Linked DNA regions of Homo sapiens. Changing the gene in region 7 together with the main gene of any one other region gives a genetic interaction. Each region holds a gene or a part of one and is shown on either strand. Other genes may lie near its edges.

The links.
Region 1: changes in ARID1A (region 7) and SMARCC1 together harm fitness more than expected from each alone (negative genetic interaction), as found in Homo sapiens cells (one large-scale study listed by BioGRID).
Region 2: changes in ARID1A (region 7) and NGLY1 together harm fitness more than expected from each alone (negative genetic interaction), as found in Homo sapiens cells (one large-scale study listed by BioGRID).
Region 3: changes in ARID1A (region 7) and HES3 together harm fitness more than expected from each alone (negative genetic interaction), as found in Homo sapiens cells (one large-scale study listed by BioGRID).
Region 4: changes in ARID1A (region 7) and GOLM2 together harm fitness more than expected from each alone (negative genetic interaction), as found in Homo sapiens cells (one large-scale study listed by BioGRID).
Region 5: changes in ARID1A (region 7) and CACNA1G together harm fitness more than expected from each alone (negative genetic interaction), as found in Homo sapiens cells (one large-scale study listed by BioGRID).
Region 6: changes in ARID1A (region 7) and HAPSTR1 together harm fitness more than expected from each alone (negative genetic interaction), as found in Homo sapiens cells (one large-scale study listed by BioGRID).

The regions. Positions count from the first base shown.
Region 1 is NC_000003.12:47,775,394-47,778,893, reverse strand, and holds part of SMARCC1 (SWI/SNF complex subunit SMARCC1), read left to right. Parts: intron 1-3,500. UniProt on the Homo sapiens protein: Involved in transcriptional activation and repression of select genes by chromatin remodeling (alteration of DNA-nucleosome topology).
Region 2 is NC_000003.12:25,718,444-25,721,443, reverse strand, and holds the end of NGLY1 (peptide-N(4)-(N-acetyl-beta-glucosaminyl)asparagine amidase), read left to right. Parts: intron 1-1,252; coding exon 1,253-1,430; intron 1,431-1,808; coding exon 1,809-1,984; 3' UTR 1,985-2,500; downstream 2,501-3,000. UniProt on the Homo sapiens protein: Specifically deglycosylates the denatured form of N-linked glycoproteins in the cytoplasm and assists their proteasome-mediated degradation. Cleaves the beta-aspartyl-glucosamine (GlcNAc) of the glycan and the amide side chain of Asn, converting Asn to Asp.
Region 3 is NC_000001.11:6,242,717-6,246,078, forward strand, and holds HES3 (transcription factor HES-3), read left to right. Parts: upstream 1-1,462; 5' UTR 1,463-1,525; intron 1,526-1,634; 5' UTR 1,635-1,649; coding exon 1,650-1,730; intron 1,731-1,831; coding exon 1,832-1,913; intron 1,914-2,393; coding exon 2,394-2,791; 3' UTR 2,792-2,862; downstream 2,863-3,362. UniProt on the Homo sapiens protein: Transcriptional repressor of genes that require a bHLH protein for their transcription.
Region 4 is NC_000015.10:44,333,719-44,337,218, forward strand, and holds part of GOLM2 (protein GOLM2), read left to right. Parts: intron 1-3,500.
Region 5 is NC_000017.11:50,623,215-50,626,714, reverse strand, and holds part of CACNA1G (voltage-dependent T-type calcium channel subunit alpha-1G), read right to left. Parts: intron 2,809-3,500; coding exon 2,640-2,808; intron 2,356-2,639; coding exon 2,186-2,355; intron 699-2,185; coding exon 1-698.
Region 6 is NC_000016.10:9,101,644-9,105,143, forward strand, and holds part of HAPSTR1 (HUWE1-associated protein modifying stress responses 1), read left to right. Parts: intron 1-1,340; coding exon 1,341-1,616; exon of another isoform or gene 1,617-3,500. UniProt on the Homo sapiens protein: Acts as a central player within a network of stress response pathways promoting cellular adaptability. The E3 ligase HUWE1 assists HAPSTR1 in controlling stress signaling and in turn, HUWE1 feeds back to promote the degradation of HAPSTR1.
Region 7 is NC_000001.11:26,762,015-26,765,514, forward strand, and holds part of ARID1A (AT-rich interactive domain-containing protein 1A), read left to right. Parts: intron 1-137; coding exon 138-305; intron 306-958; coding exon 959-1,271; intron 1,272-3,500. UniProt on the Homo sapiens protein: Involved in transcriptional activation and repression of select genes by chromatin remodeling (alteration of DNA-nucleosome topology).

The DNA.
Region 1 (3,500 bases), on a different chromosome or scaffold from region 7:
ACCTCAGCCTCCTGAGTACCTGGGACTACAGGCACGAACCACCACACCTGGTTAATTTTTTGTATTATCAGTAGAGGCAGGGTTTTGCAGTGTTGCCCAGGCTGGTCTCGAACTCCTGGGCTCTCTGCCTGCCTCAGCCTCCCAAAGTGCAGGGCTTACAAGTGTGAGCCACCACACTTGGCCCACACTGACTCTTACTTGAAATATTTTGAGACTAATAAATTTTTGTTTTCTTAAATAAAATATAATAGACTTTTTTTGATCAAAAGATTAATTGGGCCAGGTGCAGTGGCTTGCGTCCGTAATCCCAGCACTTGGGAATTCCAGGTGGGAGGTTCATTTGAGCCCAGGATTTGGAGACCAGCTTGGGCAACATGATGAGACCCTGTCTCAAAACAAAACAAAACAAAAAAATACATCAGTTGTGGTGGCATGCACGTGTAGTCCCAGCTACTTGGCTGAGGCAGGGTCCTTGGAGGATCACTTGAGCCTAGGAGGTCGAGGCTGCGGTGAACTGTGTTGGCACCATTGCACTCCAGCCTGGGCAACAGAGCGAGACCTTGTCTCAAAACAAAACGAAACAAAACAAAACAAAAAACAAAAACAAAAAAAAACCAGATTAATTGTTTATGACATAGAAATTAAAATTTCTTAATTAGGAGTCAGTGTTTTTTTTGTTTTTTGTTTTTTGTTTTTTTTTTTTGAGATGGAGTCTCGCTCTTCTGCCCAAGCTGGAGTGCAGTGGTGTGACCTCGGCCTCCCAAGTTGAAGTGATTCTTCTACCCCAGCCTCTTGAGTAGCTGGGATTACAGGCACCCGCCACCACGCTCTGCTAATTTTTGTTATTTTTAGTAGAGCTGGGGTTTCACCATGTTGGCCAGGCTGGGCTTGAACTCCTGACCTCAGGTGATCCGCCAGCCTCAGCCTCCCAAAGTACTGGGATTACAGGCATGAGCCACTGTGCCTGGCCTACATGCATTTTCATGTTTGGTAATTTGGTAGGATGATTTGGAAAAAAAATCTAATCAGAATTAAATATTTTATAGTTTATTAAAAATTGGACTGAGACTGGGGGCTGTGGCTCACACCTGTAATCCCAGCACCTTGGGAGACCGAGGCCGGTGGATCACCTGAGGTCAGGAGTTCGAGACCAGCCTGGCCAATGTGGTGAAACTTCTGCTCTACTAAAAATGCAAAAATTAGCCGGGTGTGGTGGCACATGACTGTAGTCCCAGCTACTCAGGAGACTGAGGCAGGAGAATCACTCAAACCTGGGAGGTGGAGGTTGTAGTGAGCTGAGATCGGGCCATTGCACTCCAGCCTAGGCTACAGAGCGAAAGTGTCTCAAAAAATAAATACATAAATAGAGACAGGGTCTTACTGTGTTGCCCAGACTGGTCTCAAATTTCTGGACTCAAAGTAGTCCTCTAACCTCGTCCTCCCAAAGTACTGGGATTACAGTCATGAGCCACTGCACCCGGCCTATATTCACTGTAGTTATTAAAAATATAGGCCGGGCATGGTGTCTCACGCCTGTAATCCCAGCACTTTGGGAGGCCAAGGCGGGCAGATCACCTGAGGTCGGGAGTTTGAGACCAGCCTGGCCAACATGGTGCAACCCCGTCTCTACCAAAAATACAAAAATTAGCCAGGCGTGGTGGCGTGCGCCTGTAATCCCAGCTACCCAGGAGGCTGAGGCAGGAGAATCGCTGGAACCCGGTGGGCAGAGGCTGCAAGTGAGCCGAGATTACGCCACTGCACTCCAGCCTAGGTGACAGAGCAAGACTCTCTCAAAAAAAAAAAAATAAATATTTACCTGAGGCCAGGTGTAGTGGCTCACGCCTATAATCCCAGCACTTTGGGAGACCGAGGCAGGCGGATCATCTGAGGTTGGGAGTTCGAGACCAGCCTGGCCAACATGGAGAAACCCCATCTCTACTAAAAATACAAAATTAGCCAGATGTGGTGACGCATGCCTGTAATCCCAGGTACTCGGTAGGCTAAGGGAGGAGAATTGCTTGAACCCGGGAGGCGGAGGTTGTGCTGAGCTGAGATCGCGCCATTTTACTTCAGCCTGGGCAACAAGATCAAAACTCGGTTTAAAAAAAAGAAAAAATATATATATATTTACATCTATATATTTACATATATGTTTACATATATATGTATATTTACCTGAAATGTTGATTTGGTTCCATCTGAACAGCCTTTTTCAAGGACATTGTCTTTTTCAGCTATAGAGTTTGGCATTGTTTAGTTAATCTGTAAAATACAGATTGTAGTTATTATTTTTGAGACAGTCTCACTGGGTCACCCAGGCTGGAGTGCGTGGCACGCTCTTGGCTTGCTGCAACCTCTGTCTCCTGGGTTCAAGCAATTTTCCTGCCTCAGCCTCCTGAGTAGCTGGAATTACAGGTGTGTGCCACTCTGCCTGGGTAGTTTTTGTATTTTTTTAGTAGAGATGGAGTTTGGCCATGTTGGCCAGGCTCGTCTCAAACTCCTGACCTCAAGTGGTCCACCCGCCGCGGCCTCCCAAAGTTCTGAGATTATGGGTGTGATCCTCCGTGCACAGCCGGTCATTATTTTTTTATGTTGCTTTACCGTGTACAAAAAAAGTGCAGTACATTATATGACTCCTTTAGGAAACCTGTGCTTATTAAAGATTATGAAGTTACCTTGCGGATAAGTACAATGTATTTTGTCAGTTTTGTAAGATACACTTGAAGTATTTTTTTTTTTCTCGTTTGAGACGGAGTCTCGCTTTGTCACCCAGGCTTGAGTGCAGTGGCGCACTTTCGGCTCACTGCAACCTCCGCCTCCCGGATTCAAGCCATTCTCCTGCCTCAGCCTCCCAAGCAGCTGGGATTATAGGCATGCACCACCATGCCTGGCTCATTTTTGTATTTTTAGTAGAGACGGGGTTTCACTATGTTGGCCAGGCTGGTCTTGAACTCCTGACCTCAAGTGATCTGTCCACCTTGCCCTCCTAAAGTGCTGGGATTACAGGCATGAGTCACTGCATCCGGCCAGAGTTTTAATTTTTAATTTTTGTGGGTACATAGCAGGTCTATTTCAAAGTTTATTTTATTTTATATTTTTTGAGAGTGAGTCTCGCTCTGTCACCCAGGCTGGAGTGCACCCAGGCTGGAGTGCGGTGGCACGATCGCGATCTGGGTTCGCTACAGCCTGCGCCTCCTGGGTTCAAGCGATTCTCCTCCCTCAGCCGCCTGAGTAGCTGGGACTACAGGCAAGTGCCACCATGCACGGCTAGTTTTTGTATTTTTAGTAGAGACGGGGTTTCACTGCTTTAGTCAGGTTGGTCTTGATCTCCTGACCTCGTGATTCGCCCGCCTCGGCCTCCCAAAGTGCTGGGATTCCAGGTGTGAGCCACCACCGCGCCTGGCCCTTGAATACCGTTTATTAAAAATTTACGGGGCTGGGCGCGGTGGCTCACACCTGTAATCCCAGCACTTTGGGAGGCCGAGGCAGGCGAATCACGA
Region 2 (3,000 bases), on a different chromosome or scaffold from region 7:
GATTAGACTTAATGTAAGAACCAAGTACTTGCTGTACATTTCAGACCAGGCAGATAACATAAAGAGAGTGGGATTTTAAAACATTAATCTGATCAGAGCCAGGCACGGTAGCTCACACCTACAATCTCAGCAACTCAGGAGACTGAGGCAGGCGTTCAAGACCAGCCTGGGCAACATAGTGAGACCCTGCCTCTAAAAAATTTTTTTAAATTAGCCAGGCATGGTAGTTGGAGGCTGAGACAACAGGGTCATTTGAACCCAGGAGTTCAAGGCTTCAGTGAGCTATGATTGCACCACTGCATTCCAGCCTGGGTGACAGAGTGAGACCCTGTGTCTAAAATAATACACTTGAAAATAAAAATATGGTCAGAGCAATTGGAATTGTACAACAGTAGTCAATTGCATTAAGATAAGTGTAAAGTTCAAACTGTAGTAGTAAGTGCAGTATTAGTGAGGAAGGGGTTTCTTTCCAAGATTTCAAACAAATACATAGAATTTTGTGGGAATTCAGACGTAAGGGATGAACGACTGAAGCGTCAGAGTCTTAAGAGTTTGAGCATGGTTGAATAGAGTGACCTGTGAAAGACCAAGGCTGTGGATGTCAGTTTTCATGGCAATGTTTTGAGGAGTGTAGATAAAAGTATGAGAGGGGATGAGCTGGAAGCAGCCAGTAGGCTTAGATGCCTTAAATAGTATACATTTAATGTGCTAAAGGGCGTTGATGAAGGAACAGGGAGCATGCTATTTAGAGAAGTGAGCATGGATATCACCTTTTAAACCATTAGTTAGCAGTGGCTCAGGTATTTTCTCGATTTAGAGACTATAGCATACCATGTCACACTAGGAAAGCGTATATGAAAATCCAGACTTATAAAAATTAAAGAGTAGTTGCATTTAAAAGGATTCTTCATTTTCAGCAGGATTAGTCATAAAACTCATTTTAAAGAGTTGAACTTCTTAATATAAAAGAAGATGATTTACCAAAATTTGGTTAGAATGCAGTCCTTTAGAATTGCACTTTTTGGGGACATCTGCATTCAAATAATACCTGTCTTCTAGGGTAAAAGATGCCATGGGAAAAATTGCCAAAAAAAATGTTAGCAGTAAGAACCTTTTCAACAGGGAAAAGTTAGTTTTTAAATAACCACTTGTACATACTACCCTGTGACAGTAATATTCTTCACTAAGTTTGTTTTCTATACTATTTCATTTTTTCTGACAGTTCCTTTCTCCCCATCCCTACTCCTTATAGGTATATTTGGCCCGAAAGGAAGGATCATCTTTTGCTTATATTTCCTGGAAGTTTGAGTGTGGGTCAGTTGGCCTAAAAGTAGATAGCATTTCTATTAGAACAAGTAGTCAAACTTTTCAGACTGGAACAGTAGAATGGAAATTGCGATCTGATACAGCACAAGTAGAACTGACAGGCGGTAAGCATTTGCCTGGAGAATTAATCACGAAATATATATTTACCACTCTGAAGACTAATTGTACTTATTTGAGATGTAGCTCTTTTTCGTACCTAAGAGTTATTAATACTATTTCAGTAAAAAAAAAAAAATTTAATAAACCCTGTGTGATCCCATTGTAACAGAAAGGCTGATGTTTTCTGTTGTGAAATACAAATGCAAGGAAAAAATCATTTCTTTGTTTCAAAGGATGCATTTCTTCCATAAAGAATAATTTGTATTTATTTTTAAGGGTTTATTTTAACTTATACATCAGCCTATATAAAATACATTTCAAAATGATCTGTGCTCTTTAAATTACCAAAAGCAAAATGTTAATTTTTTTTTTCCCTCTAACAGATAACAGTCTTCACTCCTATGCTGATTTTTCTGGTGCCACTGAAGTTATTTTGGAAGCAGAATTAAGCAGAGGAGATGGTGATGTCGCTTGGCAACACACCCAGCTGTTTAGACAAAGCTTAAATGACCATGAAGAAAATTGTTTGGAGATAATTATAAAATTCAGTGACCTTTGAGAACCTGAACATTATAGAAAAGCTGGCAATAATCAAGGACTTACTGAAGTAGTCTGTTGGTTCAGTGCATGCTTAGTTGGCAGTTACCACCCTGTGCTAGCATATTTCTTTTGCTAGCTATCCATCATGTAACCCTCATGAAAATTATCTTTATACGTGGACTATAATAAAATATTGAATTAAAACCTTTCTTCCATATGTGACTATAATTTGGAGTAAAGTCTTGTTGACTCAATATGGGATTTTAATCTAAAACTGTAAGTATGGTTTTAAAAGTTAAATAATGATATTCATGATTAAATGCTATTCATGATTATGATAAAATCTTGGGCTTATGATAGTAATTTGACATTTTCTGATCAGCCATTCATTTCTTCAGAAGTGGTTAAATTAGAGTCTCCTAATATTTTTAATTAATGTGAAAGTACAGTAGCTCATAAATTATATAATGCATGAAAATTTATATGATTATAAATATTCAGGCATTTAAGAAATAAAATGAAGTATTTTGCCTTACATCTTTTTAGTGGTTATTTTGGCTAAATAAAAATCTTTTTTCTAAACATTGAAAAATACTTGAATAGATATGAGTTATGAAAACATTTAACATTGACAACATAAACTAGGATACATTTTAAATTCCATAATACGTGGACATTTTGAAAATGCCTTACCTTTGAGTTATATTTTTATCTACCTCATTGAATAAAATATTCTTGATTTTGAAACTATGTAACTATATTATACAGTATCTATATGTTGTATCAAGAGGTTTTGTGTATATTCTGTATAACCTCTCAAATTTAGTGAACATTTATTAAGCATTTATGTACAAAGCATTGTGATAGCACTGTGGAGGAAGCAGTGGTGAAAAAGACATAGCCCCAAGCCTCCAGATTCCTTTGTGATATTCTGCAAAGTGAGTTCTCAACTCTTTATACAAGAAAAAGACACACTCAAGAGTCTCACCCTGTGCCACTCAATAGAACGTGACATGTATTATAAAATATATAATA
Region 3 (3,362 bases), about 21 Mb from region 7:
AAGGGGGAGGGCGTGGCGCGATTCTCCACGCTGCTTGGCGCCTGGGAACGCCGCTATCCTGGGAAGGGTAGGCGGGGGCGGGCTGGGGGGAGATGCCCTGGCTTGATAGAGCTGGGGGGCGCACCCCACCCTGAGTCCCTACACAGAAGCCGGTTTGTTCATTCCTCTGCCACAGGGCTCAGCTGCAGAATTTTTGCGACTTCCCTGTCACCCTCAGAAGCAATGGGGGCTGCATTGTTCAGAATATAATTTTACAAGCCCCAAAAACTAAAGCCATGAGGGCCCATGGGAGGTGTCTAGGTTTGAACCCAGGGACTTCCTGGAGGTCAGCCTTCCTGTCCATCACAGCAGCTACAGTTCAGCCTCCTGGAGTCCAACCAGGGGGATGGCCCCAGAGCCTTGCTGTAGGCCTAGCCCATCCTGGGGCAAGTGCTCCAGGCGCCTCCTCCACTGGGTCCGCCGTAGTCTGAATCATAGATTGGGGTGCGGGCCCTGGATCTCTCGAAGTGTGGCCTGGAGCTCTTCCCAGAATGTCAGTGGTCTCCTGCCACCACCACCTGTGCGTGGAGCTGAGAGCAGGCTCATGGGAGTAGACTTCTAGTGCTTCTCCATGGGGACAGGGTCTACCACCAAAGCCACCCAGCCTGGAAGCCCAGGGCTGTAAGGAAGGGAGAGGCAGCCGTGTTCACCCCACCTGCCTCCTGTGGGAAGTCCGCGTTGGATCCTAGCAGTGTCAGAGAACACAGGACCCAGGCTGCACCCTCACCAGGACCCCTCCCAATCCCAAGGCCCCAGCAAGGATGAGGCTGGCTGTGGCCCCGCGGGTGGGCTGCATGCTTTAATGGGACACAGGCTGCTGCATGGCCCCCGCGGGCTCAGCTTGTGCCTGGCTTTGAGCAGCCACAGGCAGAAAATTGCTGCATTGTCCCGACATTAGGGCAACTAATGCGGCGTTGCGGGTATAACCAGAGCATGAAGTGCATAAAGAGGCGTCGCCTTGGCATCTTCATCAGTCCCGAGGGAGCCCAGAGCCCTGTCATAGTCAGTGAGGCAGCCTGTGGCCAGCTGGCCCATGTACCTCCCCAGTAGGTGACCCCTGGAATGCTTGCACTCCAGGGTATCAAGGACTTGGCAAGTGGGACTGGAGAACTTACGGGGATTGGGACAGGATGGGCATGGAGGGGGTGGGCATGGCAGGGGTCCTCAGACTGGGGAAGTGGTGGAGGCCAGAGAGATAAGGAAAAGACAGATAAAGGGGAGGGGGGGGTCCCTCGGGAGACAGGGGGGGTCCTGAAGGTGAGAGGAAGCCTAGGCTATGGGAGGGGGCTGAGGGAAGGAGGTGGGGAGCTTCCCAGTGCGTCCTCCCTCGGTCCCCTCCTCCTCAAGGTTTCTAGAGTCCAGAGGGCCTCATTGACATGTAAACGAGGGTCCCTATAAAGGCGGCGCTGCCTCGCACTGGTGCATGGACTGCAACATGGGCACGGAGCCTGCTGCCCGGGGCAGCCTCCCCGGCAACTTCCGAAAGGTCTGGGGTCTTGAGGGACTAGGGGCAGGCACCCTTCCCCGGGAGGTGTGGGGGGGTGCCGAGGGCAGGAGGGTGGCAGTCCTGCACTCTAAAGGCTGTTCATCTGCAGATTTCCAAGCCGCTGATGGAGAAAAAGCGCCGGGCACGCATCAATGTGTCACTGGAGCAGCTCAAGTCGCTGCTGGAGAAACACTACTCGCACCAGGTGAGACTCAGGCGGGGTGGGGGTGGGTGGGTGATACGATCCCAACCTCCCTCTCTCCACCTCGGGAGGCCGGTCTAATAGACCTTTCCATGGTCGGGTAGATCCGGAAGCGCAAATTGGAGAAGGCCGACATCCTGGAGTTGAGCGTGAAGTACATGAGAAGCCTTCAGAACTCCTTGCAAGGTATAGGGGAGGGCTGGAGGGAGGAGGGGGAGGCTTGTGGGATCAGAGCCAGGGATGCACAAGGCCAAATAAAGAGGGATACCTCAAGGACCGCTTGACCCCGGGCTTTTGAGACCAGCCTGGGCAACATGGCAAGACAGCAAATATAAAGAGGACAACTCGGAGGCAGGTGCAGTTGGTGAGGAGGGGGCCCCAGCTCGCTAGGGGGCGAGGGAGGAGCAGTAAAGCCCGGGCTGGCTGTGCGATTGCAATCTGGGTGGTAGGTCTGGACCCCGGGGGAGACGTTCGGGTCGTCTGACCTCCGCCCTCCTCTTCCCTTCCTCAACACGCTTCCTCCCTCCTTTCCCCTCCACCTCCACTCCCCTCTCCTCCCTCCCTTCCTCCCCTCCCCTCCCTCCCCCTTCCCCTCCTCTCCCTCCCCCTCCCCTTCCCCTTCCCTCTCTTCCCCTCCCTGTTTCTCGCGTCCGCTCTTCCCCACAGGGCTCTGGCCTGTGCCCAGGGGAGCCGAGCAACCGTCGGGCTTCCGCAGCTGCCTGCCCGGCGTGAGCCAGCTCCTTCGGCGCGGAGATGAGGTCGGCAGCGGCCTGCGCTGCCCCCTGGTGCCCGAGAGCGCCGCCGGCAGCACCATGGACAGCGCCGGGTTGGGCCAGGAGGCGCCCGCGCTGTTCCGCCCTTGCACCCCTGCCGTCTGGGCTCCTGCTCCGGCCGCCGGCGGCCCGCGGTCCCCACCACCCCTGCTCCTCCTCCCCGAAAGTCTCCCTGGCTCGTCCGCCAGCGTCCCCCCGCCGCAGCCAGCGTCGAGTCGCTGCGCCGAGAGTCCCGGGCTGGGCCTGCGCGTGTGGCGGCCCTGGGGAAGCCCCGGGGATGACCTGAACTGAAGGCGCTCCCTATTTGGTCTCGCGACACAGGGACTATTTTCAGCACGCCCACAGTGACTGCCAGGACCCCCCAGTCGTCCGTTCTGGTCGTGGGGCGGGGGTGGCTTGGAGAGGGCCGCGCACCCCGCAAGCGCAGGGAAATACCCCCAGCCCTGCCGGACTGGGTCTGCGCGTCTGGGCATAATCCACCCCCACTCTAGCTCCACCTACACACGCCGGACCGCTCGCTCTCCGCCCATCCTCCGGAGGGGCTGGGAGGGGGTGTCCTGGGCTGCGCCCCTTTCCCAGGGACCCCTGGCGGGCAACCCGCCCGCCCCCACCCCCGCCCGGTTGCCGCGCAGCGGTGGGAATGTCGCAGTTGGCAACAGCGCAGAGCTGACCCCTCGCAGCGAGGAGAATCGCTGCCCCGCCCCGGACCATTCAGCGGACCGCGGGCGCCCGGTTCCCACCGGCACAAAGCGCGCCTGGCCCCGCCCCGCCGGCAAGGGGCCCCCAGCCTCCCCCAACCCGGGATCCTCTTGACTTCCAAGGACCTCCTTCGCAAGCGGTGCTGCCCACCGGGCTGGCGCAT
Region 4 (3,500 bases), on a different chromosome or scaffold from region 7:
TTCTCTTTTTTTTTTTGAGATGGCGTCTCACTCTGTCACCCAGGCTGGAGTGCAGTGGCGTGATCTCAGCTCACTGCAAGTTCCGCCTCCCAGGTTCACACATTCTCCTGCCTCAGCCTTCCGAGTAGCTGGGACTACAGGCACCTGCCACCACGCCCAGCTAATTTTTTGTATTTTTAGTAGAGACGGGGTTTCACCATGTTAGCCAGGATGGTCTCGATCTCCCGACCTCGTGATCTGCCCGCCTCAGCCTCCCAAAGTGCTGGGATTACAGGCGTGAGGCACCACGCCCGGCCGCTCTCTTCTATTCTCTTAAGGAATACAGATGAGAGCTTTCCCTTTTTTTCCAAGCCAGTGTAATTCTCTTTCTGTTCTTCTATACTAGGCTATTTTTATGTTATTAATTAACTAATGCTTCTCCAATTCTTCCTTGCCATTATCCTACCCTAAATGGAACAAGGCATGGCAGGAATTGAGGTGCCCAGAGAACTTCTCCTTTCTGGGTAGCACATCAGCCCTTACCCTCTAGATCAGCTACCTAATTCTACTCCCCACCCTTCATTTCCTGTACTTTAACTACTATGGCAAGTTGGTTCTGTGCAATTTGAGTTTTCATAGAGACAAATCCAATGTTAGCTATATGAAATAAGCATAAATTGTATTCAGGGATTTATCTTTTTGTTTTATTAATTTTAAAATTAATTAACCAGCCACATGTCTATCATAGAAATGACTCTGGAAAAGAAGTCAGCAAACTATAGCCCGCAGGCTGAATTCAGCTTGCTGCCTGCTTTCGTACTGTTTAGAGGCCAAAAGTGGTTTTCACATTTTCAAATGGTTGAAAAAAATCAAGAAAAAATTATCTTAGTACTTGGGAAAATTATAAGAAATTTATATTTTGGTGTTCATACATAAAATTTTATTGAGACACAGCCATGCTTATTTGTTTACTGCGTTCATGCTGTAAGGGCAGAGAAACTCTCATAGCCCAGAGAAGACTAAGGAGACTAAGGACTTAAATGCAGTGTAGTAGCTGGGGGCGGTGGCTCACACCTGTAATCCCACCATTTTGGGAGGCCAAGGTGGGTGGATCATGAGGTCAGGAGTTCGAGACCAACCTGGCCAACATGGTGAAACCCCATCTCTACTAAAAATACAAAAAGTTATCCGGGCATGGTGGCTGGCACCTGTAATCCCGGCTACTCAGGAGGCTGAGGCAGGAGAATCCTTTGAACTGGGGATATGGGGGTTGCAGTGAGCCAGTACTGCACCACTGCACTCCAGCCTGACAGCAGAACGAGACTACATCTCAAAAATTAAAAAATTAAAAAATTAAAATAAATGCAGTGTAGTATCCTGAATTGGATCCTGAAACAGAAAAAGGACTTAGTGGAAAAACTGGTGAAATCTAAGTAAGTCTGGAGTTTAGGTAGTAATAATATACTGATTTTCTTTTTTAGTTTTGCAAATGTATCATGGTAATTATGGATGGTAGGTTAACAGGATTTTAACATTAGGGAAAACTGAGTAAGGGGTGATTACTTTTCTGTAAATCTAGAATTATTTCAGAATAAGAAGTTTATTTTAAAAACAATCAGGAGGCCCACTAACCAAATCACAAACATTACATCTAGAAAAGCATCTTATTTTATTAATATTAATATTGTCCATTCATAGAAAGGTACTGTCAATAGTACATTAAAGATACAACATCTTTGTTAACTATTTTCAATGGAAAAGTATTTTTGAACAGTAGCTTGTTGACTTTTAATTTTGTTCAATATTTTTCTTATCCATATCTGGAAAAGAGTGAAGAGTACTATAGCAATAGCCTTATGAGATAGCATTATAGTGAAGATGCACAGACATGCAAGCTGGCTGCTCAGGTTGTACCTCATGGATTTTCTCACCCTTGGTGTTTATATTGACATGTTCAAAAATTTCAGTTTATCATTTCATTCATCAATGATTAAACTATCAGAATTGATTATAGCTTACCAACTTACAGGAAATGTGGGATTTGGAGTCAGAAAGACTGTGGTTAGAATTCCTTCTTCACAATTCTCTAGTTTTGTGACTTTGGACAAACTGCTTTTTTTTTTTTTTTTTTTTCTGAGACAGAGTCTTGCTTTGTCACCCAGGCTGGAGTACAGTGGCCCGATCTCGGCTCACTGCAACCTCTGCCTCCCGGGTTCAAGCGATTCTCCTGCCTCAGCCTTCTGAGTAGCTGGGATTACAAGCATGCGCCACCATGCCCGACTAATTTTTGTATTTTTAGTAGAGACGGGGTTTCGCCATGTTGGTCCGGCTGATTTTGAACTCCTGACTTCATGATCCACCCGCCTCTGCCTCCCAAAGTGGTGGGATTACAGGCATGAACCACCGTGCCTGGCCCAAACTACTTAACTTTTTCTATTTAATGGAGTGTTGCACTGTTGCCCAGGCTGGAGTGCAGTGGTGCCATCTTGGCTCACTGCAAGCTCCGCCTCCCGGGTTTACGCCATTCTCCTGCCTCAGGCTCCCAAGTAACTAGGACTACAGGCACCCGCCACCACACCCGGCTAATTTTTTGTATTTTTTAGTAGAGTCGGGGTTTTACTGTGTTAGCCAGGATGGTCTCTATCTCCTGACCTCGTGATCCGCCCACCTCGGCCTCCCGAAGTGCTGGGATTACAGGCATGAGCCGCCGTGCCTGGCCCAAACTGCTTAAGTTTTTAATACCTCAGTTTTGTTTTTCTCAAAACTATTAATTTTATTTCTACTAGAGGACAGCTATGAAGGCAATTTGGAAACTATGAGACACGATGCAAATATTTATTGTTGATTTTACTTGCCAGGACACTGGAATACCTACACCTAATTGTCAGAGTACTCTTTCTCCTTTATTGTGACACACTCTTAAGATTTGGCTGTTGTGGCCGGGTACGGTGGCTCACGCCTGTAATCCCAGCACTTTGGGAGGCCGAGGTTGGCAGATGACGAGGTCAGGAGATCGAGACCATCCTGGCTAACACAGTGAAACCCCGTCTCTACTAAAAATACAAAAAATTAGCCGGGTGTGGTGGTGGGCACCTGTAGTCCCAGTTACTCGGGAGGCTAAGGCAGGAGAATGGCATGAACCTGGGAGGCGGAGCTTGGAGTGAGCCGAGATCGCGCCACTGCACTCCAGCCTGGGCGACAAAGCAAGACTCCGTCTCAGAAATAAATAATAATAAAAAAAAATATTTGGCTCTTGTTTTTCTAGATTCCATATAGATTTTTCGTACTATTTTTATAACATTACTAAGAATTATATTTCATACTGCATTAGAGTTTACAAAGCATTTATAGATGCATTAAATGTTGACTAGAGGAACCTGTATATGGCATCCCAAGCTTGTGTACTTGAATCCTTGCTGCTCCCAATTTTCCATGGAGGCAAACTTAATACTGGTCCACCAAGAGAATTGAGTTAGGCCTAACCATGTACCTGAAGATTCACATTTCCAAGAAGATGCTAG
Region 5 (3,500 bases), on a different chromosome or scaffold from region 7:
GAGAGACTCAGCACATCTTTCTTTGGGGAGGGCGAGGCAGCCATGCTGTCAGGGGGGCCAGAGGCCAAGGGATCCTTGGAGTCGCTGGACGGAGCCCTCCTCCGGAGGCAGATACCAGGGCTGGGCGGGGTCCGAGGACCTTGGCTCTCGGGGGGGTCTATGGTGATACTAGGCGGGCTGAGTTTTTTCTTGGGCCGGCTCCCAGGCCCCCCAAGAGGCTGGCCCCCAAGGTTAGAGGGGTCTGTGCCCAGGTGGGGTTGGGAGCCGCTGTCCAGGCAGCTGACGGCGATAGAGTGTCTCCTCTGCTCATCCAGCCAGGACGTAGGCCGGCGCTGGCAGCTCTGGGCCTCCACGCTGTAGCACTTCTTCAGGTCCCGTGGGGATGGGGGCTCCTCCTGGCCGCCAGGGGGCAGGAGGTCTCCTGAAATCCAGCTCAGCTCCGTGTCCAACTCTAAGCTGCTTCTGGTCTCTGGAGGGCCCTTGCCCCAGTTGGGTTCTGGGCCTGGGCAAGGGGCTGGCGGGGTCATGTGCTTGGAGATCTTGCTGTGGCTGCGGGAGTGCTGCTGTGCCTGGGTACTTGACTGGCCCCAGAAAGAGTAGGCCCGGGCCAGGGGCGGGGAGGGCCCACTCACCTCTGCCAGCAGGTCTTCCCGGCTGCCCAGACCCTGAACGTCCAAGGAGTCAGTCCTTATTGCTGCCTATATGGGGTGGGGGAGGGCTCAGCCCAGCAGTCTCCTCTCCAGCATGGACTAGCCCTCCTGTCAAGCTGGCTGTGCCCCCTGCCCACCACCACCAGGCACAGCAGGACTATCCTAAGCAGAGGTCCTGGTAGCCGCTCTTACTAGTAGATAGGGGTCATTGCAGCCTGACCTCTGTTGTCCACCATGCCTCCTCTCTCCCCACTAAACCCTGTCTTCCCTCCCCCATGCTCTGGTCTCCCCTAAGCCTGCAAGAATCGCTCTCTCTGCAGCCCCTGCCTCCTGGGATATGAGAGAAGCCAGGCCATCTCTGCTCACTGAGCTGGCTCCTTCACGCCTCCCCGCCTCTGCCTAGACTTCCCCTTTGGCTCTGAATACCCTTCCTGATTGGCAAGAATCCCTCGATTTTACGGACTCAGGTTCTCTGTGACACAGTGTGTGACAGTCTCTGTCCCCAAGTAAAACCGACCCCTTCCCCTTCTGTGTCCCTGCTGCCCTCCACACATAGGTGTCTGGCAGCTGTGAGCTGAGGCTGCAATGATCTGATGGCAGGCATGTCTCCACTATTAGACTGTGAGCTTCAGGGGGCAGGGGCTGTGTCGCCAGTGCCTGGCACACAGAGGCTGCTTAGTGACTATTTGCAGAATGAATAAGGACTGTGCCTGCTCCCCCAAGCATGTGGGATTGAGATTCTCATGTGTCCACGCTCATGCCTCAGGACACACACATGGCATGGGCTGTGGCCTTATCACAGGTGGGCTCTGGGGCCGGGCGCGGTGGCTCACGCCTGTAATCCCGGCACTTTGGGTGGCCGAGGCGGCCAGATCATCTGAGGTTGGGAGCTCGAGCTCAGCCTGACCAACATGGAGAAACCCCATCTCTACTAAAAATACAAAATTATCCAGGCATGGTGGCGCATGTCTGTAATCCCAGCTACTCGGGAGGCTGATGCAGGAGAATCACTTGAACCCAGGAGGCGGAGGTTGCGGGGAGCCAAGATTGTGCCATTGCACTCCAGCCTGGGCAACAAGAGCGAAACTCAAAAAAAAAAAAAAAAAAAAGAATCTGGGCTCTGGAAGGTGGGCCCTAGGCTTGGCCAAAAGTGAAGACACTTAAAACCTGCCTTGTGCCCCATAGCTCAGTCCAAAGTGGGGAGAAGAATTGGGAGGCAGCTCTGGTTGGTGAGGAAGGAAAGACCAGAGACTGGGGTTCTACCTCCGACCAGATAGGCATGACCCTGGGCAAGCACTACCCCTTCTGGTCTCCAGGCCTCCTCAGTGGAACAAGGAACTGGGTGCAAATTTCAAGAAGGCACAGACCACTTCTGCTTTGCCCAGTACTGTGTCCCTGGTATCTGCAACTGAGCCTGGCACATCACTGGCACACAATAAATATTTGCTGGAAGAATGAAAGTGTCAACACAGGTCATCACCAGCAGCAGAGGGTCCAGCCCCCAGGCCTGTGCCTGCCTTTCCACATCTGCTCACCTGGCGCCTGAGTGGCCTCTGAGCCAAAGGGGAGCGTCCTGGTGGGGGCAGTTTGGGGATGGTGCCCCAGGTTGGGGCGCTGTGGGGCTGGAGCAGATGAGGTGCATCTTTGGGAAGCTGCAGGATGTAGCTGGTATCTGCTGGCTGGGAGTGAACGGACAAGACGGAGCCTGTGGAGGGAGGGAAGCGGGGGAGGGGTGGGGGGAGAGAATGGAGCTGGAGGGTTCAGGGGAGCAGGTTCTCACCTGAGCCCTCCCTTCCACTCTCTCCCCCTCATCAGGGCCTCTACCCTTACCCCCTGGACTCAAAGCCATTCCCCCAGGCTGGAGGCTCCCCTGAGGTCAGAGATACCTCTTTGGCTGCCTCAGTTCCCCATCCCCTCAGATCAGGACTGGCTTAGGCCAGGATGGAATCTCCCTGTGTGAGCCAAATTGGCCTGCTCTAGCCCTGGTACCTGACTGAGCTTTGGGGAGCCCCCAGCCCCTGTGTCCCAGGGGCCCCTCGGCAGTGCTCCCATGCCGACACATGTAGCTGTCATTGGGCAGAGAGTGCGTTCGGCTGACCCCAGACTTCCGCACAGTCAGTAAGTCTGGTCCTGGCAGCTCCGTGGGGTGGGGCTGCATCTGCAAAAGGAACAGGGGAGGGAGGTGGAGGAAGAGGGTGTGCGTGGGTTTGGTAACTGAGGCAGCGCTGACAACAGAAAGCAGCAGCGCCCCCCGCCCAGCCCTCACCCCCGTGCCCTCCCAGGACAAGGTAGAGATGGGCATGAGCATGGCTGGGGAGAGGGGCAGACACATGGATGAGCCCTCCACACGCGGGGAGGAAGCAGGTAGGAGGGGGTCTGGGCAGCCGGGAGAGTCTGCAGGCCCTGCCCCCCACCCCCTGCAAAACTGCACACATTGTATCACCTTTAAGCTCCCACTGTGGTGGTGGAGGGGCGGGGAGGTATCCAGAGAAGGGAGAGCAGCCCCCAGCCCCCAGCCCTGCAGGTGGCTCACAAGCTGATTCTAAAGGCCCCATTTAGAGGCTCTGAAGGGAGTCCCGGTGTCCACAGGGATGGGCTGGGGCCCTGACCCAGAGCAGCTCAGGGGAGGATTAAAAGCTAACAGCAGGCCAGGCACAGTGGCTGGTGGCTCATGCCTGTAATCCCAGCACTTTGGGAGGCCAAGGTGGGCAGATCGCTTGAGCTCAGGAGTTTGAGACCAGCCTGGGCAACATGGCAAAACCCCATTTCTAAAAAAAAAAAAAAAAAAAAAAAAAAAAAAATTAGCTGGATATGGTGGCGTGGCACCTGTAATCCCAGCTACTCCAGAGG
Region 6 (3,500 bases), on a different chromosome or scaffold from region 7:
AGTAGGCCTTATTATAAAGTTCTGGTTGTTGTGCTTCCCTCTTGCCATTTTCTTTAATAGTGCAAATTCAGCTTGGCATCCTCTGTGATGTCTGGATGATTTTTTTTTTTTTTTTCTGGAACATAGCTTTACATTGTTTGACTATTGCCCATCCTTTGAGAGTCTGCTGTAGATGTAGCAGACAAGAAATTAAAGCCGCCGGTTGCAGTGGCTCACGCCTGTAATCCCCAGCACTTTGGGAGGCTGAGGCAGGCGGATCACAAGGTCAGGAGTTGAAGACCAGCCTGACCAATATGGTGAAACCCGGTCTCTACTAAAAATAGAAAAATTAGCCAGGCATGGTGGCGTGCGCCTGTAATCCCAGCTACTCAGGAGGCTGAAGCAGGAGAACCCTGGAGGCGGAGGTTGCAGTGAGCTGAGATCGAGCCATCGCACTACAGCCTGGGCAACAGAGAGACTCCGTCTCAAAAAATAAAATAAAACGAAATAATCAAAGCCGGGAAAAGTAATAGAGAAATGTACACAGTATTGTTGCTTTTACGGAAAGTTCAAGGATAAAGTAACGATGTTGGTTAATGCCATTAAAGACATACTGGTGATGTTCTGCTGGCACAGCAGCTCAATTAAAACTAAATAATAGTCACTTAAATTTTCAAATTTTTTTTCAACTAAATGAAACCACTAAAAGGTAGAGATCATTTTACCAAAACCCAGGTGGAGTATATGCAGAGAATTTAGTCTAGGAGATCTGTTGGGAATGGTTGAGTTACAGGAAGCTGTTGAGAACTGGAAGCAAAATGAGTATACCCAGGGAAATGAATAAAGCTTTTTGTTTTCCACCATGCTATTTGGTTTTAGTGTTGAGCCATCAGTCAGAATTAATTTTTCCTTCTAAAACATTTGCTGCTGCCTTCAGCTTGTTCCTCATTCTTGGTGCTGAATCTGTCAGTAGGAATGTATCTCCACAATGACGTGGTAAATGCAGATGAGCGTGGCCTGAGGCATGTGCAATATTTAGACATCTGTTGAATGATGTGATGCAAGTTATTTTAGGTAATTTCATTAAAGATACCTAATCTCTCTGTTTCTGTTAAATTTTTTTTTTTAACAAGCCAAGCTCCAGGACTGTGATAAGTAAACACTGAATTTAGACCATTAAGATTAAATGTTACATATAACATTTTCATTATGACTGAAATCATTTCAGTTTATATTACTGATGGGCTCAGAGGCCACATCATGGTATTCACTTTGGTTAAATTGTAAAATGGTTTTCTTTAGAAGGGAATACGGGCTCTAATGGTCATGATACATGTTTTCTTTTTCTTTTTTTCTAACAGAAAGCGTGGATACCCATCAACGAAGTTTTGATATTGGAATTCAGATTGGCTATCAGCGACGCAATAAGGATGTGTTGGCTTGGGTTAAAAAACGCAGAAGAACTATTCGTCGAGAAGATTTGATCAGCTTCCTGTGTGGAAAAGTTCCTCCACCACGAAACTCTAGAGCTCCCCCAAGACTGACTGTAGTGTCCCCTAACCGAGCTACTTCAACGGAAACTAGCTCATCTGTAGAGACTGATTTGCAACCCTTCCGGGAAGCCATAGCTCTGCATGGTAAAGCCGTTTAAACATATTTCTTTGGAAAAATGGTTAAGAGGGTGCCTGTGGACCCATTTTTCACGGTTAGGTTTAGGTCCAGATATACTGTTTTTTGTCTTACAGTAAACAGCTTGCTCTAGAAATGTTTAATAGAATGTAAGCTAAGAACTTAATATGGGCGATTTCTGTCAGCTAACCTATCCTAGAAAATGTTTTTAGAAAGTTAGTTTGAGCTTATTGGTGTTAAAATGACATATCTTTCTGCAGTGTTGATTAGAATTTATCGCTTTACACTTATGTGTTGTACGTGTTTTTTTCCTCTTCTGAAGTCAAAGAGGAAGTTCTTGTGTCTTAAGAATTCTGTTATATTTCTAATGGTCCATGACAGGCAAGTAAGGTGGGAAATTGTTGGGTTAGTTCTCATGGGACCTGGGACCTCCCTTGACACCTTTCTTACTTGGTTTGCTGTAGATGGTGGGAGAGGATGGATGTAAGACTTGACCTTCTGCCTGTCGTCCCTCAGGTCCCTTGCACTTTAAGAGGCAGGACCAGCAGAGTGCAGCCAGTGGGCAGGTGGATCTCTATCTCCCCAGGCCAGACCTGTCATAAGAAGGCACTCTTGGCTAAGGGATTTTAGTATTGCTGGAGAAACCCGGGAAATGTAGTCAGTGATAAGTCTGTTGTTGCTTGTTGCTGTCTAATACAGACTTCCAAATAGAGCTGGGAGAGTTAACCTGTGTGACAGCATTGAATACTGCTGTAGGAAAAAAAGCAACAGAATAATAAGACTTGCTTGAAACCATGATGGAAAGATGGATCACGCAGATGGCTAAGCAGGTAGAAGTAATTAGGTCATGAATCCTTTTTTTCTTTTTTTTTTTTTTTTGGAGACGGAGTTTCGCTCTTGTGGCCCAGGCTGGAGTGCATTGGCGCGATATTGGCTCACCGCGACCTCTACCTCTGGGTTCAAGCGATTCTCCTGCCTCAGCCTCCCGAGTAGCTGGGATTACAGGCATGTGCCACCACGCCGGCTAATTTTTTAGAGACAGGGTTTCACCGTGTTGGTCAGGCTGGTCTCGAACTCCCAACCTCAGGTGATCCGCCCACCTTGGCCTCCCAAAGTGTTGGGATTACAGGTGTGAGCCACTGCGCCTGGCCATGAGTCTTGTTGAAAGTTAACATTTTTGGGCCATAGTACAGGTCATCTAAAACAAAGTAACCTGGTAAGGTACTAAGAAATAGTGGCATATAAAGAAACTTTATAGACGTTGAATCATTGAGACTTTATAATACCTGTAGAGATCTTGTTCTCTCTGGCAAACCGTAGTTCTTTCCTGAAACCCCAATGTTGTTTTTTCCCTTGATAGTGTTTAGGACAATTAAAAACAAAAACATGAATTGCAGGAAAGTTCAGGTTGTGTGGATGCAGTACTTTAAGACTGCACACTGTTCCTGACACAGTGGAATAGTTAGGCTGTCAGAACTTTGGAAGCTCAGGCAAAAATGGGATTGATCTGTTTATGCTGAATTAGAGAGTTTCACATCTTTCCCCCTAAAGTTTGGGAAAACAATTAACTAGAGGTGTACATAGTTTGTTAGATTAATTTTAGCGCATGGTAATATTTGATGCAGTTGTCTCTCCTTAAGTATTGTGATTTTCTTCCTTTATTAAGAGGGTTGTGGGTCATTCCATGCTTCTCTTAAGGTATCTTTTTACTCTGTTTTACTGTTATATTTTAGAAGATAGTTTTAAGAAACATAAAAACCATGCTTGTTATCTTAACGTAGTAGTAGTGTACATAATAGTAAAAAGGGCAAGCCAGCCCCCTCTGCCCTCGAAAAACTGTATTCTCCAACTCCCACTACATTTTCTCATATTGAATCTGTTCCACCTGTGAT
Region 7 (3,500 bases):
ATATAGAAAATCAGATAGAGACTCCATGCAAGTGGCTGCTAAAGAAAATGTAGATGGTAAAGTCCCAGGATAAGGATGGAGAGCATTTGTTCGCATTGTATAAAGCTAATAACTATATGGATGCTACCCACAAATAGGTTATATGCAGAGGAACCCCCAGATGCCCCAGTACAGTTCCCCCCAGCCCGGCTCAGCCTTATCTCCGCGTCAGCCTTCCGGAGGACAGATACACACAGGCATGGGCTCCTACCAGCAGAACTCCATGGGGAGCTATGGTCCCCAGGGGGGTCAGTATGGCCCACAAGGTCAGTATACTACCCAGTTAGGAGTAGATACGGGTGAGAGGAGAAAACAGTTCCTTGTCTGATATGTTGCCATCTAGCTTGTAACCTTGTGAGAGAAGGGCTGTCCTTTGCCTTTAATCCACCCAGCCCAGGCCCTGAAGTAGGGCAAGGCAAGATTCCATTTGTCTCCACTTATTCTGTCACCATGAGAAAGTCTTTCAATTTCACTGAGCCTCTGTTTCATTTATAAAAATGGAGATTAGGTGTTTACTCCACCATTGAGCACAGACAATTTATACATGGTAGCTCTTGGTTATTATTTTTTTATTAATTATTTTTAGTGAATAAGTCATAATGGAATAGATCTTTGCTCAAAATTGCAGCCCTAGGCTGATCAAAAGTTGAGAATCTTACACAGAGCATGGAAATAGAAAGGAAGTTATCTTCTTCTGGAAGTTGAAATGCCTGTGTGGCAGCAAAGCCAGCCTTGCTCTGACCTGCCTTTACATGCTTCTGGAATCCCCCCCTTTTTCTCATGGCGATAAAGGCTACCATGAAGTTGATCTCTTTCCTAACCAAAATATTGAATGACATTGTTTGGTGTTCTAGAGTTGAGAGATATTAGTGAGTTGCTAGTGAGTGACTAACCAAGTCTTGTCTTCCTCCCCTCCCAGGTGGCTACCCCAGGCAGCCAAACTATAATGCCTTGCCCAATGCCAACTACCCCAGTGCAGGCATGGCTGGAGGCATAAACCCCATGGGTGCCGGAGGTCAAATGCATGGACAGCCTGGCATCCCACCTTATGGCACACTCCCTCCAGGGAGGATGAGTCACGCCTCCATGGGCAACCGGCCTTATGGCCCTAACATGGCCAATATGCCACCTCAGGTTGGGTCAGGGATGTGTCCCCCACCAGGGGGCATGAACCGGAAAACCCAAGAAACTGCTGTCGCCATGCATGTTGCTGCCAACTCTATCCAAAACAGGTAAGGCCTGGGAAGCAGAGAGGGTGTCAGTGCAAGAAAATGTATTATAGACCCACTCAGATTATTGAGATGCTTCTGGACCTAAACCAGGGGGGGAAAATGGGTGTGTGTGTATGAAGTGTTAATTCTTACATACCTTAGATGGGTCTGAAATTTCACGTGACTAAACATCATATGTAATGAGCTTTATAAAAGACAGGTTTTTGGCCGGGCGTGGCGGCTCATGCCTGTAATCCTAGCACTTTGGGAGGCCAAGGCGGGCAGATCATGAGGTCAGAAATCAAGACCAGCCTGATCAACATGGTGAAACCCCGTCTGTACTAAAAATACAAAAATTAGCTGGGTGTGGTGGCGCACGCCTGTAATCCCGGCTATCGGGAGGCTGAGGCAGGAGAATCACTTGAACCCAGGAGGAAGAGGTTGCAGTGAGCCAAGACTGCGCCACCACACTCCAGCCTGGGCGACAGAGCGAGACTGTCGAAAAAAGGGGTTTTGTGGGGTGTTTTATTTTGGGGTCTTTTGAGACAGGACCCTGCTCTGTTCCCCAGGCTGAATTGCAGTGGCATGACCACAGTTCACTGCAGCCTCGACCTCCCAGGCTCAAGTGATCCTCCCACCTCAGCCTTCTGAGTAGTTGGGACTACAGGCACACACCACCACACCCAGCTAATTTTTTTTATTTTTTATATTTATTTATTTATTTAGAGACTGTCTCACTCTGTTGCCCAAGCTGGAGTGTAATGGCACACTTTCAGCTCACTGCCACCTCTGCTTTCCAGGTTCAACCAATTGTCCTGCCTCAGCCTCCCAAGTAGCTGGTGTTACAGGCACCCGCCACCATGCCCTGCTAATTTTTATATTTTTAGACTGGGTTTCACCATGTTAGCCAGGCTGGTCTCAAAATCCTGACCTCCAGTGAGCTGCCTGCCTTGGCCTCTGAAAGTGCTGGGATTACAGGCATGATCCACCATGCCCGGCCTTTTTTTTTTTTTTTTAAATAGAGATGGGGTCTCAGTGTGTTGCCAGGGCTAAAGACTGCTTATTTTGATGTGCAAAATAAGTGTTCAGAGTAGGTGGTTTAACTTCTATCAGTCAACTTTTTGGTTTCCAAAAGGATTCTTAATGATACATATGTCTTGGATCTTTGGTGTTAGAAATAGCAAATGGTAAGCTTGTGGTTTGCCATTTCTCCTACTGTTTTATGTGGTCCTACGTGTTGACTCTGGTGCTAGAGTACAGAAGGCTCATGTGATTAGGTTTAACAACTTCTTTAGCCACTAAATCTTACTGAGTTGTTGTTGATGAACCAAGGTAGAATAGGGCGATTGACTATAAAGAGGTGGATTTGGTAGAACTTCAGAATGATGGAAGTGCAAAGTTTGCATTGGGCCCCTCAAGAAATAATGCAAAGCCACCTCTGGGTGCTATGCTGAGGGTTCCAGTCTGGTTGGGATTTAGCATGACAAAAAGTGGTACAGTTCAGCATTTCATCTATGCCTTTTGCCACAGACAGGGCCCTTAAATGGAAATACAACTTGACTTTGGAGGTGGCTTTGAGGAAGGCAGTACTTAAAGGACACAGCAGGGCTCTGCTTCAAAGAATTACACCCTTTGAAATTGAGCTATTGTGGCCGGGTGCGGTGGCTCACTCCTGTAATCCTAGCACTTTGGGAGGCTGAGGCAGGTGGATCACCTGAGGTCAGAAGTTCAAGACCAGCCTGCCCAGCATGGCAAAACCCCATCTCTACTAAAAATACAAAAAAATAGCCAGGCATGGTGGTGGGCGCCTGTAATCCCAGCTACTCACGAGGCTGAGGCAGAATGGCTTGAACCTGGGAGGCGGAGGTTGCAGTGAGCCGAGATCATGCCATTGCACTCCAGCCTGGGAGATGAGTGAAACTCCATCTCAAAAAAAAATTGGCCGGGCATGGTGGCTCACCCCTGTAATCCCAGCATTTTGGGAGGCTGAGGCAGGCGGATAACGAGGTCAGGACATCGAGACCATCCTGGCTAATACGGTGAAACCCTGTCTCTACTAATAAAGTACAAAAAATTAGCCGGGCGTGGTGGCAGGTGCCTGTAGTCCCAGCTACTTGGGAGGCTGAGGCAGGAGAATGGCGTGAACCCGGGAGGCGGAGCTTGCAGTGAGCTGAGATCGCGCCACTGCTCTCCAGCCTGGGCAACAGAGCGAGACTCCATCTCAAAAAAAAAAAAAATTGAACTATTGTT